Linked DNA regions of Homo sapiens. The main gene of each other region encodes a partner of the protein of the gene in region 2 in a complex. Links are inferred from orthologs where the notes say so. Each region holds a gene or a part of one and is shown on either strand. Other genes may lie near its edges.

Region 1 (3,098 bases), on a different chromosome or scaffold from region 2:
GGGTTCAAGCGATTCTCCTGCCTCAGCCTCCCAAGTAGCTGAGATTACAGGTGCCCGCCACCAGGCCTGGCTAATTTTTGTATTTTTAGAAGAGACGCTGTTTCACCGTGTTGGCCAGGCTGGTCTCGAACTCCTGATCTCAAGTGATCCACCCACCTTGGCCTCCCAAAGTGCTGGGATTATAGGTGTGAGCCACTGCGCCCAGCCGGCCAGAGTGTCTTTTATGGGGCTTAGATAGAGCAAGGAATCCAGTTTGGGAGTACCCTGCTGGGGTGACAGTGAAATTGTGCTGGAGGAAGAGGTGCCAGTAACAGCAGGTACAGTTTCAGCAACTCTTCTCTCTGACTCCTCTGTTCTCAGGTCCCAGGGCCTCTAGACCATAGTTTCAGGTCACCCTCAAGTGTCTCCTCTTCATTTAGACCTCCAATCTAACTAACCTCAGGCCCGATGTTGGGGCCTTCTAGCAAGAACTGTGGAGCCCAGACTTTACCATGTGAAGTTGGTGGCTATAGTGCCTGGCTGAAGGCTTGGTGCCCAACCCACACCCTAATCTTATCTGCCCAGAGGGTACCTCTGTAGAGTGCCAGGCCCAGGACCCACAGGGCCCAGGCAGCATCTTAGCCAGAACCTGTGGGCAGAGGAGAGGAAAGAGGCTGGAGATGTCAGCAGGAAGAGAACCCCAGTGCCCCACTCTTAAGTTTACATCTCTATCTGTGACCACTGCTACCTTCTTCTCCCAGAAAATCAGATACTGATTCCTCTTTCAATAAAATTTTATTTTAAGTCCTTAGTGAATATCTAAGAGGAAAATATAAAGTGCTTGGCTTTAGAGTTGGGAGGTCAGGGAAGAGGGAAAGGCCCCCTGGGTTCACACCATTTGGAATTTCCTAGTCCCTTACAGATGAAAGAGGGCGTATATCTCAAAATTAAAAAAAAAAAAGGATAAAAAATTAGCCTTGAGTTCTCCACCAGCCAGTGTGTGCGAGGATTTTCAGGACACGATTATCACGGACAACTACTGAGAATTATCACAAAGAGGACAGGTCAATCGTGTGAAGAATGAGTCTACTTCAAAGGAGACAGGAAGAACAAAGAGGTGAGGTGGAAGATGGGTCCCCCAGGCTCTACACCAGGGACAGAATGGCTGCCTGCTGCTCTGGAGTCTGCTCCAGCAAGTATCGGGCAAAGGCCTGCTCCATCTGTATTGGAAGAGATGGAGAAGAGCATCTCAGTGCGTGCATCAGGGACAGACACCACCCCCAGGAGCTCCTTCCCCACTGGGAGACCCCCTTTGCCTCCTGGAGCACCACTGTCTCTGCTCTCATTAGATGGGTACTCTACCCCTGCTCCGAGCTCACCTTCACTGTGATAAGATTCTGTGGAGTATGGCTGGAGCCATGGCTCTCTTCCCAGAAATTCAGTGTTACCTGGAACTTCGGTGGGGGGCCCAGGCCCTGAAAGTACCTGACCAAGTCTGAAAGAGAAAGGGTCAAGGGTTCGAAGAACAAAAAGAAGAGAGAGGGCCACAGGCAGGGAGGCAATAGTGAGGAACCCATGATGGAGAGAGGTAGGAGGGGGTCTTGCCAGAGCAGGAGCTGCAAGGTCAGAAGTACTTGGAACTAAGTGCTACTCACCCATGTGCAAATAGGAAAGGGTGCCCCTGCCTCATATAAGTGCTTAGAAGTAGCAGATCACAGCACAGCCCGACAAGCTCTCTGCTGGGAGAGTTTAGAGTCCTCCCAGGTAGCAGCCCTGGCTGCTAACTCAGATGTGCCCAGACCTTTGCTACTTGCTCACATCCTCCCAGTGCTAGGGCACCCATGGCCCTGGGAACACCCACACTCTGCACCCCCTGTACACCTGGTCCCACTCTTAAGGTCAGGTTTAGAATTGAGTAGGAGCTGGAATTGGATGGGAGAGAAGCGCAACCCTAAGGCATGCCTGGAGTGTGGTAAAGACGGTGCAGCCAGGGCCAGTGTGTGTGATGTGTGCCAGCTCTCCCAAATGTGTGTACGTAGGAGAAGGCCATGAGGCTCAAAATCTCTGTGCCAATTCTTCTGTGCACCTTCACATAGTGACTGCATGCTTCAGTGTGATGGTGTTCTCCAAGATATGACACTCTTGTGCTGGGCTCTACCTGAACCACCTCTTCCATTGTCTTGGCTGGAGGAGAGCTGCCAGGTAGCTGCCAGGCTGGGCATATGGCCACACAGGATATGCAACACACAAGCGCAGGAGTGCCATGCATAGGCTACATGGAGGATCTGCTGGCAGATAGGGAGGTAGCAGGACCCAACAAGTTGGGCCCAGGGGGTACTAAGAGGTAGGGGGTGGAAGCTCATGTGCCCAGAGAGAACAGCCTCACCTCTGCAGAAGTAGGCGGTTCTGAAGAGCTCCACGCACTCGTTGCTGGGCAGCAGATGCGGGCCTGGCCCAGGTGGAGCCTGGGGTGCATTCCAGGAGATGGGGATGGGGCAAAGGCGCTGCACGAAGAGGCCTCGGGGGTTGCTGGCCACTAGGATGCCCCTCTCAAGCTGGCTCAGCAGGCGCTGCGTGGGCTCCAGTGGGCCAGGCTTGGGGAACAGCACCTGCTCCATGCTGCTCTCAGAGCCTGAGGGCTCAGCCACAAGGCGGCAATCCAGGCTTTGCACCTGGGCCTCGCCCACCACGCGCCCGTTGTAGATGAAGGTGAGCAGCAGTGAGTAGTCTGGGGATAGAACAGCCCTACCTGGTGCTGGAGGAGCATGCAGGCTGGCAGCAGCCCCTCCCCAGGGGAACAACTCCACCTCCCCTCCCCACACCAGCCAGGGGGCTTCCTCTCAGGTTTTCCTATCACTGAGGCAAGTAGCTAGTATGTGATTCACCATGAGGCCTCAGGGCTCAATGCCCAGGGGCTTGTAGTTTACTAGAAGGTCCCTTGAGATTGGGCCTCTGTTTGGCCCAATGAAATCAATGTCTCAATGTAGATTTCCAGGAGAGTGTATAGGGTGGTATTTTTGGGAAGCAAGCTTTTTGGAGTCTGGCCAGGCATATGGAATTCTCGCCACCTAGAAACCACTGCCTAGGGCTATGGTAATGTGGGTACAGTTTGCTGTAAG
Region 2 (7,297 bases):
GCATGGTGGTGTGTGCCTATAGTCTCAGCTACTCAGGAGGCTGAGACAGAAGAATTGCTTGAACCCGGGAGGCGGAGGTTGCTGTGAGCCAAGATGGCACCACTGCACTCCAGCCTGGGGGACAGAGTGAGACTCCGTCTCAAAAAAATAAAAATAGTAATAAAAGCATAGGTCACAAACTATTCTTACCAGGTAACCAAAGTCCCAAATCAAACCCTGACTCTGCCCCTTCTCGGGGGTCAAAGTTTTCTGGTTTGAAGTCAGAATGTTGAACTTCCGGAAGCTGTTCCAGGAGGAAGATACATGGAGACAAGGAATGGAATTATTCTAAAAACTCAGCAGAAAAAAAAAAACAGAAGTTCCACTTCATTTCAGATCTCGCCATCTCCCTTTGTCCATATCCCAAATCCCCCTCTTCCTTGTTTGTGCCACCAGGGCTGCCGAATGTGGTTCTGCAGGTCATACACTGTACAGATGTTTGCAGTGTCCTTGTCAAGCACCTACCCTTGTAATTGAGGAGGATTCCTGAAAAGAAATAAATTTAAAAAAATCATTGGGCAAAAGAGTATGGAAGTTAGGAGTTTCGTCTTTGGGATCAGACAGACCTCGGTTCAAACCCGACTTGAGCTCACTAGCTATGTGGCCTTGAGAAGAGATGTAATCAGTCTCTCTAAGCCTGTATCTTTGTTTGTACAGTGCACTGGTAATAGTTTATTCATGGGGTTGGTGTGACAATTAAATGAGTAGCTGACATGCTGCATGTCACAAAGTAAGTGTTCAACAAAAGAAATGAATTATAATTTCTGTGAGGTAGGATTGGAAGGAGGAAGGAGATAGCCCTAGGGCCCTGTTGTGAAGAGTGAGTATCTCCTCCACCCCAGCAGCCCGTGTCCTGGCCACCCTTCACCTGCTCCAATTTACCTGTCAATGGAGACTTCCACAGTCAGTGACTCATTGCCTTCCTGGAGTCTCACCAGCAGCCTGGGGGAAGGAAGGGGGATAGGGGAAAGTGGTCAACCTCAACCTTCCGGATAGACTAGATGTTTGAAAAAGAGAAGAGGGATTATAAGAGGTAGGGAGATTGCAGGGAAAGAGAAGAAAAAGCCAAGAGTGGGAAGAGCTGTAAAGCCAGAAAATACACAGTGGCAGGGTTGGAAAAAGGAAGTGGGAATGAGTTCTGGAATGCCAACCTTGTTCGGACGGTGAACTTGCTGCCAGTCTTGAGGATGAGGGGTCGATGGGGAGTTTGGGGCATGCAGGGCTGGGTTTCTACCACAAAGGCTCTGAGGAGAGAGAGGTGTGGAGAGAATATATAGCTCAGTATCTGTAAGAATGGCTTCCCTTGTTCCTTCTTTCCCCCAGGGTTCCTGCCTGGCCTCTAGACCTGTGGAGCAGACGCTGTAGCAACTCTGTGACCTGGGCGTTGCGTAGGTCCACCCCTTTGGTCAGAGGGTCATCCTGATAGCTAACCAGGCAACTCAGTCCCTTCAGCTCCTTCAGCAGCTGCCTCAGGTGAAACAACAGCTTTGCTCCAGCTGTGAACCTGGGTGATAAAATTCAGGAAGAAGGAATCCATGAGTTTCCTGGATTCCCCCATCCAGGTTCCAAGATCTCTCTGTAAATATGTGAAGAGTCAGAAACTGACTGGGGGGAAGAAAAAAAAAGAATCCAGGAAGCATATAAAGGATTATTCAACATGATTCATAATCCAAGAAATGAAAATCAAAGCTATTTTCACATATAAAACTGCTAATAGATTTAACATAACAGTTTTCATATGCTATGTACAACTTATATTAAGCCCTTTCCACATATTAATGCATTTAATCCTCAAAACAACCCTCTGAGGCAGGTACTATTATTTTCCCCACATTACAGATGATAAAACTGAGGCACAGAAAGGTTAAGTGACTTGCTTAAGGTCATACAACTAGTAAGGGATGAAGCTTGTATGTGATCCCAGGCAGTCTCATTGTACAACTCACACTTTGTTTTTTTTTTTTAGACAGTCTCACTCTCTTGTCATCCAGGCTGGAGTGCAATGGTGTGATCTTGGCTCACTGCAACCTCCACCTCCTGGATTCAAGAGATTCTCCTGCCTTGGCCTCCCGAGTAGCTGGGATTACAGGTATGTGCCACCACGCCCGGCTAACTTATATATATATATTTTTAGTAGAGACGGGGTTTTGCCATGTTGGCCAAGCTGGTCTTGAACTCCTGACCTCAGGTGATCCGCCCACCTTGGCCTCCCAAAGTGCTGGGATTACAGGTGTGAGCCACTGCACCCAGCCCCAACTCACATTTTTAACTACTGTACTTTACTGTCTCTATAATTAAAAATAATAATAATCAGCAATGTGGTGACAGGAAAACAACCATACACTACACATGAGAAAATAGATTCGATTGGGACAACTATTCTGGGAAACATTTGTAACTATCTTTTTTTTTTTTTTTTTTTTTTGGTGGGGGTGGGGGTGGGGGTGGTTTCTGGCAAAAACCTGAAAGCCTGCTAGACAAATCCTAAAAGAGCTGTAACACTTGGAACTATCTTTTAAAAAGCCTCGCCAGCTGACATGGTGGCTCACACCTGTAATCTCAGCACTTTGGGAAGCAAAGGTGGGCAGATCACTTAAGGCCAGGCACTCCAGCCTGGGAGACAGAGAGAGACCCTGTCTCAATCAATCAATCAATCAATCAATCAATGCATGCATGCATGCATGCTGGTCCTGTACCATAAGTACTATATGCCTGTTTTTCAATCTACCTGAGCAATTGTGGTATTTTTTTAATCTACTTTTTTTTTTTTTAAGAGGTGAGGGTCTTGCTATATTGCTCAGGCTGACATCAAACTCCTGGACTCAAGCACTCTTTCTGCCTCAGCCTCCTCAGTAGCTGGGTATTATGGTATGTGTACATATATACTTTTAGAGACAGGGTCTCGTTCTGTTGTCCAGGCTGGACTACAGTGGTATAATCATGGCTCACTGCAGCCTCCAACACCTGGGCTCAAGCAATCCTCCCACCTCAGCCTCCTGAGTAGCTAGGGACTACAGGCGTGTGCCACCATGCCTAATCTTTTTTTTTTTTTTTTGAGACGGAGTCTCGCTCTGTCACCCAGGCTGGAGTACAGTGGCATGATCACAGCTCACTGCAACCTCTGCCTCCCGAGTTCAAGTGATTTTCCTGCCTTAGCCTCCTGAGTAGCTGGGAATACAGGCATGCGCCACCACACCTGGCAAATTTTTGTATTTTTAGTAGAGATGGGGTTTCACCACATTGGCCAGGCTGGTCTTGAACTCCTGACCTCAAGTGATCCACCCACCTTGGCCTCCCACAGTGCTGGCCACATGTGTGAGCCACTGTGTCCGGACATGCCTAATTAAAAAACAAATTTTTTTTTTTTGTAGAGATGGGGTCTTGTTATGTTTCCCGGGCTGGTCTCAAACCCCAAGACTGAAGTGATCCTCCTGCCTCAGCCTTCCAAAGTACTAGGATAACAGGCATGAGACGCCATGCCTGGCCTGGTATATTTCTAAAAGACTAAATTATAATAAATTTTTAAATGAGAAAATATTGAAAACAGTAGGTATTTTTCAAGTATGTTGGAGGACACACTAGTGATTTTTCTACAACACAATATAATTACCATAAAATATAGCGTTTCCTGGAAAAAGGTAACAAGAAATTGAAAATAACCTAAATAGCTGAAAATAGGAGTTCATTAATTAAATTATGTTACCACCATATAGGGGACTGTTGTGTGGACATAAGAAATAACATGGATAAATATAATATACTGTTGGCCGGGCATGGTGGCTCACGCCTGTAATCCCAGCACTTTGGGAGCCCAAGTTGGGTGGATCACCTGAAGTCAGGAGTTTGAGACCAGCCTGGCCAACATGGAGAAACATCGTCTCTACTAAAAATACAAAAAAACTAGCCAGGCATGGTGGTGTGTGCCTGTAATCCCAGCAACTCGGGAGGCTGAGACAGGAGAATTGCTTGAACCTGGGAGTTGGAAGTTGCAGTGAGCTGAGATCGTGCCACTGCGCTCCAGCCTGGGCAACAGAGAGAGACTCCGTCTCAAAAAAAAAAAAAAAAAAAAAATATATATATATATATATATATATAAAAAATACTGTTAAGCTTAAAAAAAACCCCATGGATTTCAAAATAGTATGGACAATATGATTCCATTTTTGTTTAATAAGCTAGGTAATAGGTAATTTTCTCTTCCTCCTTCCTTCCTTCCTTTCTTGTCATTGTATTCGTTGCAGTAAAAAAAAAAATACATATATATATATTTCTGGGTGATTAAAAAAGAAGGAAAAACCAGATTGTGGGTTAATTCATTCCTTTCCCTGAAGGAGACTGGGCTCTGGGCTCCCTGCGTGGTGAGGATGAGGAGCAGAATAGAGCTGCAGTCAGCAGGGAGCAGGGCTCATTCTGGGGAGCAGAGACAAATAGAGAACAGTATCTCTTGCTATATGCAGGGCACTGCAACTTACAAATCACAGCGCATGGCGAGGACGAGGGTTGGGGTGGTACCTCTCACCATGTCTCCAGCTGTTCCAACCCGTGGTCAATGGGAGCTCTGATGCAGGCTTTTTGCTGCTGGGCCTTCCACTCCTCCAACTTTGGCAGCAGTAGCTCGATTAGGGTAGTTAATCGGCCTAGCAGTGCTTTGGAGGCATCCAGCACCTCCTGGGAAAGAGATAATGTGAGTGTTGAGCATCTCTCCCTTTCACCCTCCACCACCCAACTGGGGATGAAGAAACAAAGAAGCCAGCGCTAGAGGACCAGGGTCCCCACATCCCTCATTTTTCCAGGTCCTTGTTGCCCACATGTTCTGTCCTCTGTCTCCCACCTTTCTCCTTTTGTCCAGTTCATTGAGAGTTTCCTGCAGAATCTTCTGCTCTTTGGTCTGATGGGGGTCCAGAGAGGGTGTCTTCCCTGGATGGTGGGAACAGGAGTCAGTCCAGGGGTTCTTTCCTCTCCTTCCTGACTGGGGTCTCAGTCAGAGTCAGGAAGGAGGAATTTTGTGGAGGAAGAAAGGGAAACCAAGCAAAGCACAGGCACCTGTGGGACCCTCAGGCAAATTCTGAATGGTCATGCTTGGACCAGACACCCCCTCAAATAAAACACTGTTAGTTTTCCATGCATTTCCTCAACATTTACTGTCTCTCAGCTGCACCTCCAGCTCAGCCTCCACAAAGCACTTCCAGCTTTGCACGGCAGCAGGACTGTAGTCAGTGGGGTGTGTCTGACAGTGACTACTGCTCATCGGAGCTTTCTCCTGTTCACTTCCAGCTCCGGCTTCTCAGCAGGCACTTATCTTTCTCCAGCCCCTCAATGTGCTTCCTACCTTTGGCCTGGATCTTATATCGGAAGCAGAAGACATCCTGCTGGTCTTTCAGTTGGCTGATGGATTTTACCAGCTTCTGCAGAGGGGAGAGGACCCCGATGAGGCTGCTTCTCAGGGAGGTGTTAGGCTGAACGCTGTCAACCCTAACTCCTACCACATCTACTAACCTCCATCATAGCCCTTAAATCCAGGATCCGGGATTCAATCTCATGTTGCTGGCTCTCCACAGGTGTTTCGAGAACTGGCTCTCCTTGTTCCTGAAAAAAGAGGCTCTGAGCACGTTTTAACTCTGGCCTTTCATGCCTTAAGTTCAGGCCTGAAATTATACCACAGGATGTCGGGGGGATCCTGTTCTGAGACAACTCCCTGAGTCCTTTCCATGGTTCCTCTCTACTTCAGGAGTTTCCAACATTACCACTGAATTGTCCTCACCAATTGGGCCCTCTGAGCCTGGATCAAAATTCTTTTTTCTTCCAGAAGGAGGTTAAAGATCATCTCAGCCAACTGGGTAGGATCCTGGGAAAAGGGCTAGAATAGGTAAACAGAAAGGATTGATCCAATTCAACCACTCTCAATGACCTATTGCCCTAGACCCTCCCCACCAATGTCCACAGTATTTCCTCCTCCTTCGGGGTTCTTAGCCCTTTGTCTTTTCACCATAGCATCCTCCCAACAGTGTCACGTATATGCAACCCTTCTCTCTGCTAGTGATTCCCCAAGTCCAGACTCTGTCCTCCTTTCCCCACATTTGTTCCCGTCTCCCTTTCCACCTCCAGGTACTATTCTATTCTCCAAACCTTACTCCTCTATGCTCAGCTCCCAGTGCTACCCCATCACTCCCAACCGTTCCAAGTACCTGAATGTCCCGGCAGAATTTCCGCAAATTGTGCTGCAGCAACAAGGACTCTGGGTCCTGGCTGCAACGGCCACACTCATAGTTCAGCTGATCCAAGAAGTGGAAGAATAGCATGGTAGCCTTGGAATCATCACTCCCAAGTGCAGCTTCCTGCCTGGGCACCAGGAATAAGAAGTATTAGTGTCTCTGCAGTGTTACTGTAGTCCTGAGGCTTTCCAACCCCTTCCTGCCATTAATGATTCCAGGATCCCGGGGGCCCAGAAGTAAGGAACCACCTTTTTCATTCCCCCAACTTCCTGAAGGCCTCACCAGTTCTGGTCTTCAATCCAGACAGCCAAGTACTGTCGAATGTCCACAGGCAGGAGGCTGTGCGAGTAAAGCTGGTGCAGCTGATCCTGAAAGGGGCTGTCAAGATTCTGCAGCATTTCCCACTGCGCCATTTGGGCTCTGCGTCAGAAGGATGAGGGTTCCCAATTGGATATTTTGCTGGACTAAATCATCCATAGTTTCATGATTGTTCATTATTACTAATTTAAAATGTTTAAATTATACAAGTAATAAAAATACAGAAAACATTAAAATATATGTTGATCCTACTGCTAATCTTGGTTCTTTCCCCTCCTCTCCAGAAGTAACCACTGCTATCAGTTTGGTGCATATTCTTCCAGGGAGTGCTACCAGTTGAGTATCTGCTATTCCAAGCATTTTGGATTTCAGATTTGTCCAGATTTTGGAATATCTGCATTACTTACCAGTCGAGCATCCCTAATCCAAAACTCTGAAATCTGAAATGGTCCAAAATCTAACTTTTTGAGCACCCACATGACACTCAAAGGAAATGCTCACTGGAGCATTTTGGAGCCAAATTTTTCAGATTAGGAATGCCTAATCTGTATTTTTTTTTTTTTTTTTTTTTTTTTTTTAAGATGGACTCTCACTCTTTTGCCTGGGCCGGAGTGAAGTGGCATGATCTTGGCTCATTGCAACCACCATCCCCCTGGTTCAAGTGATTCTTCTGCCTCAGCCTCCTGAGTAGCTGGGATTACAGGCACCCACCACCACGCCCAGCTAAT

Evidence for each region.
Region 1: the proteins of STAT2 (region 2) and IRF9 are in contact, whole or in part, in a crystal structure (PDB 5OEN), measured with the Mus musculus proteins. The link is inferred for Homo sapiens from one-to-one orthologs. Residues at the interface, in NP_064347.1 of Mus musculus: Arg163, Gln164, Lys166, Asp167, Glu168, Asp170, Val171, Phe174, Arg175, Thr177, Val178, Phe179, Leu181, Lys182, Asp188, His190, Gln191, Gln193, Gln194, Leu197, Thr201, Lys204, Met208; in NP_032420.1 of Mus musculus: Leu206, Leu208, Tyr212, Leu233, Asp234, Arg236, Ser244, Glu245, Ser246, Ser247, Met248, Asp270, Arg271, Leu274, Val275, Ala276, Asn278, Ser279, Arg280, Phe283, Val284, Gln285, Leu287, Cys313, Glu315.

What each region holds. Positions count from the first base shown.
Region 1 is NC_000014.9:24,164,223-24,167,320, reverse strand, and holds the end of IRF9 (interferon regulatory factor 9), read right to left. Parts: intron 2,735-3,098; coding exon of another isoform or gene 2,708-2,734; coding exon 2,366-2,707; intron 2,265-2,365; coding exon of another isoform or gene 2,138-2,264; intron 1,475-2,137; coding exon 1,359-1,474; intron 1,200-1,358; coding exon 1,125-1,199; coding exon of another isoform or gene 1,066-1,124; 3' UTR 756-1,065; downstream 1-755.
Region 2 is NC_000012.12:56,349,908-56,357,204, forward strand, and holds part of STAT2 (signal transducer and activator of transcription 2), read right to left. Parts: intron 6,672-7,297; 5' UTR 6,665-6,671; coding exon 6,534-6,664; intron 6,379-6,533; coding exon 6,225-6,378; intron 5,897-6,224; coding exon 5,801-5,896; intron 5,626-5,800; coding exon 5,536-5,625; intron 5,445-5,535; coding exon 5,369-5,444; intron 4,957-5,368; coding exon 4,871-4,956; intron 4,708-4,870; coding exon 4,559-4,707; intron 1,544-4,558; coding exon 1,385-1,543; intron 1,284-1,384; coding exon 1,191-1,283; intron 982-1,190; coding exon 922-981; intron 526-921; coding exon 505-525; intron 284-504; coding exon 190-283; intron 1-189. UniProt on the Homo sapiens protein: Signal transducer and activator of transcription that mediates signaling by type I interferons (IFN-alpha and IFN-beta).